Linked DNA regions of Homo sapiens: region 2 is linked to region 1. The links come from fine-mapping of genetic effects on gene expression. A gene starts in region 1. The other region holds a variant in brackets. All regions are shown on one strand. Distances are from middle to middle.

Evidence for each region. PIP is the estimated chance that this variant, and not a neighbour inherited with it, causes the effect. A credible set is the group of variants that fine-mapping cannot tell apart.
Region 2: its variant is the best candidate, but not a certain one, in a credible set for the expression of BRWD3 in sigmoid colon (GTEx, PIP 0.60).

The regions. Positions count from the first base shown.
Region 1 is chrX:80,808,189-80,812,581 of GRCh38, reverse strand. BRWD3 (bromodomain and WD repeat domain containing 3) reads left to right here and starts at 2,705. Exons shown (of 41, transcript NM_153252.5): 1 at 2,705-3,141; 2 at 3,278-3,336; 3 at 3,540-3,569; 4 at 3,984-4,043. The coding sequence starts at 3,111. It overlaps LOC124905202 (a long non-coding RNA gene), which reads right to left and starts at 3,774. Exons shown (of 2, transcript XR_007068278.1): 1 at 3,289-3,774; 2 at 1-471. RefSeq lists an enhancer at 2,391-2,470.
Region 2 is chrX:80,384,440-80,388,832 of GRCh38, reverse strand. It overlaps a transcript of TENT5D not described here. Among named protein-coding and RNA genes, the nearest start is that of TENT5D, 34 kb to the left of the region's middle. The variant C/T (reference allele first, on the strand shown) is at 2,506.

The sequences.
Region 1 (4,393 bases):
TCTGTGAAAATGGATCTGATCCATTTAAGTATTTTTCCTTTTGTCAGCTGGCAATGAAGCTTTTCCAGTAGAGGAAACTGGAAAGATGTTGCAGAGAGAAAAGGTTTTGCTCCCTCCTTCTGGCCGGCTTACTGGGTAGGGTGTTCCTGCAGCTTGTGCAGCTCTCTCCAGTGGCTGGCTTCTGTGTTGCAGTTTCAATAGCACCAGGCCACTTCCCCTGGCACCCTCCCTCTTGTGGTTTTTGTAGTAGAGTTCCTCTGCTGAAACATTTCCCTATGAACATCCTTCTCAGGCACTCTAGCAGGCCAATTCCAGAGGGTGGGTTTCCAGCAAGTTCTAGAATGCAGGGTTCCAGTAATTTCCAGAGGTTGGAGTTTCAGCAAGTTCTGCCTGTAAGGCAATACAGAATATTTCCTGCCATAGAGTGACTCTCCACTGGCTGTGTTCTCTCTAAGAAGGTCTGGATCTCAGCTAAGGGAAGAGAATGCTTTATCTCAGTTCCAGGGGTAGTGGCTATCATATCTACTATTATATACCTGCTACATCTGTAGTATTTAGAGTTCTCTTTACTTCTTGCTAGCTAAGCCCTCATTATTCCAATTTCCTGTTATCATTAATAATTGAACTGACTGATACAGAGGTGATCATGGAATAACTGCCACATAAATTTTGAAAGAGTACACAAATACATTTTCACACGAATTTTATAACAATTCCTTGAAGTAGACATGGCAAATACTATTTATTATTCACATTTTACAGGTGAGGAATGAGGTTCACAGGCTGTGAGTGGACCAAATTCATAGTCATTTTTATCATTTGTAAAATGAGAATAACAATTGAACCTATCTCCTAGGGTCATTGTAAAGATTAAATGAGGTAAGCACGTAAAAGTGCTGAGGACATGATAATGGCTTGTTAAGTGTTAACTGTTACATACAGGTCAAACATCCCTAATCTAAAAATCCAAAATTCAAAATGCTCCAAAATCCAAAATTTTTGAGTGTCAACATGATGCCACAAATGGAAAATTCCACATCTGACCTCAAGTGGAGGATCACAGTCAAAAGGCAGTCAAGACTTTGTTTCGTGCACAAAGTTATTGAAAATATTATATAAAATTATCTTCAGTCTATGTGTATAAGGTATAAATGGAACAAATGAAATTCAAATTTAGACTTGGGTCCTATAGCTGAAATATCTCATTATGTATATGCAAATATTCCAAAATCTGAAAAAGTCCAAAATCCAAAACATTTCTGGTCCCAAGCACTTTGGATAAAGAATACTCAACCTGTACATTATACTTCAACTATAAAATTATTCAGTCTGGTATTTTGCTAAACTACTTGCAATGAGTTGTCTAGGTCTCATGTATCTTTTTATATCATTTTGTTGTATCAATTATTCATATTTGTTTTGTCAAGTTCCATGGCAATAACAACCAAAGATAAGCCTATCACTTCACAATTACCTCCTGTGGTTATTGCTTTCTGAGGAAAAAAAAAAATTACAAGTGAGAGCTAATCAACCTAGGCTAAGTTTATGTCAACTTAGAAATTCAAGGCCCACTGTGGTCAGTGGCAGAGCTGAGTGAGGAAACCCAATTCCCAAGAATATAGCCTTAAATTTAGATGAACCTTCAAATTGTAATATTTCAATGTAAATAATACATGCAACTTAAAATGCATTTCTGGTCTCATCAGGTTTAGGTGAGGGAGTGGGGTGGGGACAGGATGTTACGGGAAAGTAGGGAAGAAAAGGACCCGGTTTACTAATCTGTGTCAATTATCATACCAACCCCTTTCATCATTGAAGATTTCAGCAACCAAATACTGAAGGTCAGTGCGGTACCAAGGGTTGGGGTTATATATTAAACAGTGTAGTCCCGAACCTGTAGAAAACTATTGATACCTTGCATAGAGATAGGCAATAATACATAAAGATTATTGAAAACTCTTGGTTAAAGTACTTTAGTAGTATTTGAAAACACAATAGGAAATTACCCTGTAGGAATGGGATGTGTTAGATCCCAGCCGTAGATACGGCACGTGTTAAACTTTCAGAAGGGGAAACATGCTTCACGGCTGATTGCAAATTTCTCATGCAATATTTGTCAGAATCCAGGAGCATTTTAAGTGGTCTTCTAACAATATAAGCCCCGCACTTTGGACTGGTAAGTACAACATTTTCATTTGGTAAATAATAATAATTTTAAACAGAAACAAGTCACGACCAAATAGCGACTCATCCTCCCCCAGGCATAAAACCCTTTAGCCAGCTAGCCGCCTTTCCACGGGGTAGAGTATAAACAGCAAACAAAACCGCTTTGGTACCGGGAGGAAAAAGGGGAAAGGAGTCGAGTCAAAACACCGTCTCTTAAGTTCCTCAAGATCAACCCAGGGGGAAGGGTCCTCCACCGGAAAGGGCCGGATTGCCTTCACAGGAAGGGAAAGTCACTCCGGAGCTCGCAGACGCGAATGCCACCACAGAGTTCCAAGGCGGCTGCCAGAGCGTCGGCCGTCAGTTAGCACCTCCCCCTCCTTCCCAGAGCTGTAGCTAAGCAACCATCGGGCTCCGGGAGAGTCTAGGCTCAGCTGCTGTATTAGTGCCTCTAGCGGGGAACTATGAGCGCTGCAAAACCCTATCACCATTTTTACCCTCCCCTCTCTCCACCCCCTTTGCCCCCGCCCACCTCTTCGCCACTTCGGCTCCTCCCTCTTCTCGCTCCGTCTATCTCTCTCTCTCTCTCTCTCTCCGCCCCCCCACCCCCCGCGTCTCTCTCTCTCTCTCTCTCTCTCTCTCTCTCTCTCTCTCTCTCTTTTTCCTCTCTCTCTCTCTCTCTTCTCTCTCTCTCTCTCACTCACTCACTCTCTCTCTCCCTCTCCCTCTCCTCTCCTTCCTCCTCCGCCTCCTCAGCTCTTGGGCTAGAATATCTATGGGTCGAAACGTGATGCGATGAATTCGAGAGAGAGCGAAACTAGGACGAGGAGTGCGGCGGAAGCGGCGGGACTCCCGGGCATGGGGGCTTCACCACAATAGAGGCAGCGCCCCCACCCGCCCCCGCCAGCCCCTCCGGAGCGAAGCCCCCAAACCCCCTCGGGAAAAGGATGGCGGCAGCACCTACCCAGATCGAAGCCGGTGGGTAGCTGTGTCGGGGGGTGGGGGGGTGCTAAGGGAATGGGGGCTTAGCGCGAAGGCTGTCAGTTTCTTTTGAAAAAGCTTCTATTTCTCTTCTCTACCTCCCTCTGAACCTCTTTTCCCCCCTCTTCCCCAGAGCTGTATTACCTGATCGCTAGGTTCTTGCAGTCTGGACCCTGCAACAAATCCGCTCAGGTAAGGGGAAGAAAGAGATCTGGGAGTCGTGGTGAATGGTCCCAGTGGGGAAATCGAGGCAGCGGGACGAGCAGTTCCGTTGAGGGTGAGGGAAAGGCCGGCCTTGACTAGTCAAACGGTCAGCGGCTGGGCTTTAAGTGTGGAGGGAGGAATGGGTTGATGGCCCGAGCTGCTCCTCATATCTGTGTTTCCCTTTTGCTCAGGTGCTAGTGCAGGAGCTCGAGGAGCATCAGGTACGGAGCCCCTTCGGGAAGGGTGGGGAGGGTTGAGGTGAGACTGGAGGAAGGGGAGGGCAAGTCAGGGGCGGAAGACGGGCTGGGATAGAGGCTTCGATCTGGGTACCCGTAGCTGTTGTCACCGGGGTGAATTGGCTTCTTCCCTCAAAAGGGGCAGACAACGCTGGGGTCTTAACTCGTCCCCGCTTTATGCTTGTGGGAGGCAGTTTTTCAGGATTTCCTTCTCGACCCCCCTTCCCCCCCCCCCCCATATACTTGTCTAGCTCTGAGCCAATAGCTATCAGGCCGAGAGAAATAAAGACGGTAAAGTGTTGAGGACTGGGACACAGGTTGGGTCCAGTTGATGGGGAGCGGAGGCTTTTCCTTCATCATTTGCCTCCGCTTCCCCCTTTCTTTTCGTCCGGCCCCCAGCTGATTCCGCGCCGCTTAGATTGGGAGGGGAAAGAGCACCGAAGAAGCTTCGAGGATCTGGTGAGTAAAGTTTTCATTTCAACTTAACCTAACTCTTTCACCACTCCCTCCCCACCTTGTACCCCCAACCCGCCCCCCACCTCTCAGCCGACGAGGTTCTAGAGCTCGGTGCAGAGCCAAAGAACGACTGCCCCTTCCCCCATCCCTGCTAGTCGGAAAAAGGGTACCTTGCCCTCCCCTTGGCCCTGCTTGTTTCCACCCGAAAACTTTGAAGAATGTGAGTTGATTATCAGAGGTGCCGTGTTGTGGATTATGAATATGTTACAAACATTGGGGAAGGCCCATTGTAGGCGGAAAAGGGAGAGAAACCAAGGGGTTATCTTGGGGCACGTACTAAGGTCTGACGCTGG
Region 2 (4,393 bases), 420 kb after region 1:
ACAAGGACTGCAAATCCTAGGCAGGTCCCGGTGTGCTGACCTCAGAGCCAGTGGATTTGGGGGTTGAGGGGAACATGAAACACTAATTGCAGCAGCCAAGTAAGTAATTGCACCACCTCTCTACCAACCGCAGGCAGTATAACTAGCAATTCTTGGAGAGACTTGTTCCTTCCCCTTGAGAGGAGGAGAGGGGAGAATAAATAGAACTTTGTCTTACAACTTGGACACCAGCTCAGCCACAGTAGGATAGGGGAGCAGGCAGAGTTGTGAGGCTCACATTCCAAGCCCCAGAACCTGGACAACATTTCTAGAAATATACTGGGCCAGAAGGGAACTTTGCTGCCTTGAAGAGAAGGGCCCTGTCCTAGCAGGATTAATCATCTGCTGACTAAGGAGCCCTTGAGCCCTGATTAATCAGCAGTGGTAGCTGGCCAGTACACATCATGGGCCTTGCGTGAGATTCTGTGACACATTGATTTTAGTTGTGACCCAGCATATTCCTAGCTGTGGTGTCTATCCAGAAAGACTCCCTCTGCTTGAGAAAAGGAGAGGGAAAAGCAAAGGGGACTTTGTTTTGCAGCTTAGGTGTGAGCTTGGCCACAGCTTGGTGGGAGAGCACCAAGCAGGCTCTTTGGGTCCCTGATTCTAGGCCTTGGCGCTTGGACAGCATTTATGGACCTTCCCTGGGCCAGAGGGTAGCTCACTGCCCTGAAGGTTGAGTCCCAGGCCTGGAAGCATTCACCAAAAACCGAATGAAGAGCCCTTGGCCCTTGAATGAACATCAGTGTTATCCTGGAAGTATTCCCTGTGGGCCTGGGGAAGTGGTGGCCAGCAGGGGAGACTGCTCTGTCTGTAGAAAGAGGAGAGAACAGTGGGAAGGACTTTGTCTTGTGGTTTGGGTGCCAGATGAGCCATAGTAGAATACAGAATAGAATATATTTATGTGGTTTTCAACTCCAGACCCTGGTTCTCTGGACCTGCCTGGGGAATATGGGAACTTGCTGCCCTAAAGGGAAGGACAGAAGCCTCGCCAGCTTCGCCACTTGCTTACTGTAGAGACCTAAGGCCTTGAGAAAACATAGGCGGTGGCCAGATGTGGTTATACTCGGCCTTGGGTGAGACCAGTGCTATGCTGGCTTCAGGTTTGACCCAGGGCAGTCTCAGTGGTGGTGACTACAGCGGGGGTTGTGTCACTCCGCCCCCAGCTGCAGACAGCTCAGCACAAGGAGAGACTTTGTTTCGGGGAAAGTAAAGGAAGAGAACAAAAGTCTCTGGCTGGTAATCCAGATAATACTTTGAGATCATATCCAAGACCAGCAAGCTGGTACATAATACAAGTTTTCAAGAACCACAGTGTTACTGGGCTTGGGGTGTTCTCTAGCACAGATAAGGCTTCAGTAACTAAAAACTTAGATCACAACACCCAAGTTCCTTCGAATATCTGGAAAACCTTCCCATGGAGGATAGATACAAATGAGCCCACACGATGAAGACTACAATAAATACCTAACTCTGCAATGCCCAGAAATTGGGGGATATCTACAAGCATCAAGAGCAACCAGTAAAATCTGACCGCACTACAAAAGGTATATAAGGCATCAGGAACCAATCCCATGGAGGGAGATGTGCCCCCTAAGAAGACCCTTGGCTGCAATCTTTGACATTGGAACTGTCTGCATTCTTCATCTGGGAACTTCGATACTTAAAGCTGCCACATGATGTAAACTATGCTTAGTTATTTAACAACCAGTTTTACTCACCATGGATCAAGACAGAGTAGCTTTGCATACTTATGAAATTATCCATTTTGATAAGAGTTGTTTACCTTTTTTCTTTCCTTTTAGTTGATAAATGCTTACTGGATCTCTAGAGGACTACAAATGACTGAGGCTGGTTGGTCCGGAATTGTAGATTGAACATTTTAATTTTTCTTAGCATTTTAGCACTTTGGTTTTTTCCCCATTGTCTTCTCACATAAGAATTGAACAGCTAAACTCTAGTTTTTTTCAATATGCAGTTTTTCATGTAGTGCCCTGTTGATTTTGTTTTCATATGAACCAAACACCTAATCTTCTCTAAATTGATTCATTAAGCAGTTCACAAAATTAAAATGATTTAATTTCTGAATCCACACTGGGCAAGGATAGGTAGGAAGAAAAATTCCTCCTTGTATACTGAGTTATCTTTATTAATAACGATCCTACAACTAAAATTTGAAGTGAAATTTACCAAGTTTTGCTATTTTATTTTTTTAGATTTTTTATTTTTATTTTTTTTATTATACTTTAAGTTCTAGGGTACATGTGCACAATGTGCATGTTTGTTACATATGTATACATGTGCCATGTTGGTGTGCTGCACCCATTAACTCGGTATTTACATCAGGTGTATCTCCTAATGCTATCCCTCCCCACTCCTCCCACCCCACAACAGGCCCCAGTGTGTGATGTTCCCCTTCCTGTGTCCAAGGGTTCTCATTGTTCGATTCCCACCTATGAGTGAGAA[C/T]ATGCCATTGTGATAGTTTGCTGAGAATGATGGTTTCCAGCTTCATCCATGTCCCTACAAAGGACATGAACTCATCCTTTTTTATGGCTGCATAGTATTCCATGGTGTATATGTGCCACATTTTCTTAATCCAGTCTATCATTGATGGACATTTGGGTTGGTTCCAAATCTTTGCTACTGTGAATAGTGCTGCAATAAATATATGTGTGCATGTGTCTTTATAGCAGCATGATTTATAATCCTTTGGGTATATGCCCAGTAATGGGATGGTTGGGTCAAATGGTATTTCTAGTTCTAGATCCCTGAGGAATTGCCACACTGACTTCCACAATGGTTGAACTAGTTTACAGTCCCACCAACAGTGTAAAAGCGTTCCTATTTTTCCACATCCTCTCCAGCACCTGTTGTTTCCTGACTTTTTAATGATCACCATTCTAACTGGTGTGAAGTGGTATCTCACTGTGGTTTTGATTTGCATTTCTCTGATGGCCAGTGATGATGAGCATTTTTTCATGTGTCTTTTGTTTGCATAAATGTCTTCTTTTGAGAAGTGTCTGTTCATATCCTTCACCCACTTGTTGATGGGGTTGTTTGTTTTTTTCTTGTACATTTGTTTAAGTTCTTTGTAGATTCTGGATATTAGCCCTTTGTCAGATGGGTAGATTGCAAAAATTTTCTCCCATTCTGTAGGTTGCCTGTTCACTCTGATGGTAGTTTCTTTTGCTGTGCAGAAGCTCTTTAGTTTAATTAGATCCCATTTGTCAATTCTGGCTTTTGCTGCCATTGCTTTTGGTGTTTTAGACATGAAGTCCTTGCCCATGCCTATGTCCTGAATGGCATTGCCTAGGTTTTCTTCTAGGGTTTTTATGGTTTTAGGTCTAACATTTAACTCTTTAATCCATCTTGAATTGATTTTTGTATAAGGTGTAAGGAAGGGATCCAGTTTCAGCTTTCTATATATGGCTAGCCAGTTTTCCCTGCACCATTTATTAAATGGGGAATCCTTTCCCCATTTCTTGTTTTTCTCAGGTTTGTCAAGGATCAGATAGTTGTAGATGTGTGGTATTATTTCTGAGGGCTCTGTTCTTTTCCATCGGTCTATATCTCTGTTTTGATACCAGTACCATACTGTTTTGGTTACTGTAGCCTTGTAGTATAGTTTGAAGTCAGGTAGTGTGATGCCTCCAGCTTTGTTCTTTTGGCTTAGGATTGTCTTGGCAATGCGGGCTCTTTTTTGGTTCCATATGAACTTTAAAGTAGTTTTTTCCAATTCTGTGAAGAAAGTCATTGGTAGCTTGATGGGGATGGCATTGAATGTATAAATTACCTTGGGCAGTATGGCCATTTTCACAATATTGATTCTTCCTATCCATGAGCATGGAATATTCTTCCATTTGTTTGTGTCCTTTTTTATTTCATTGAGCAGTGGTTTGTAGTTCTCCTTGAAGAGGTCCTTCACATCCCTTGTAAGTTGGATTCCTATTTTATTCTCTTTGAAGCATTTGTGAATGGGAGTTCACTCATGATTTGGCTCTCTGTTTGTCTGTTATTGGTGTATAAGAATGCTTGTGATTTTTGCACATTGACTTTGTATCCTGAGACTTTGCTGAAGCTGCTTATCAGCTTCAGGAGATTTTGGGCTGAGACAATGGGGTTTTCTAGATATACAATCATGTCATATGCAAACAGGGACAATTTGACTTCCTCTTTTCCTAATTGAATGCCCTTTATTTCTTTCTCCTGCCTGATTGCCCTGGCCAGAACTTCCAACACTATGTTGAATAGGAGTGGTGAGAGAGGGCATCCCTGTCTTGTCCCAGTTTTCAAAGGGAATGCTTCCAGTTTTTGCCCATTCAGTATGGTACTGGATATAGGTTTGTCATAAACA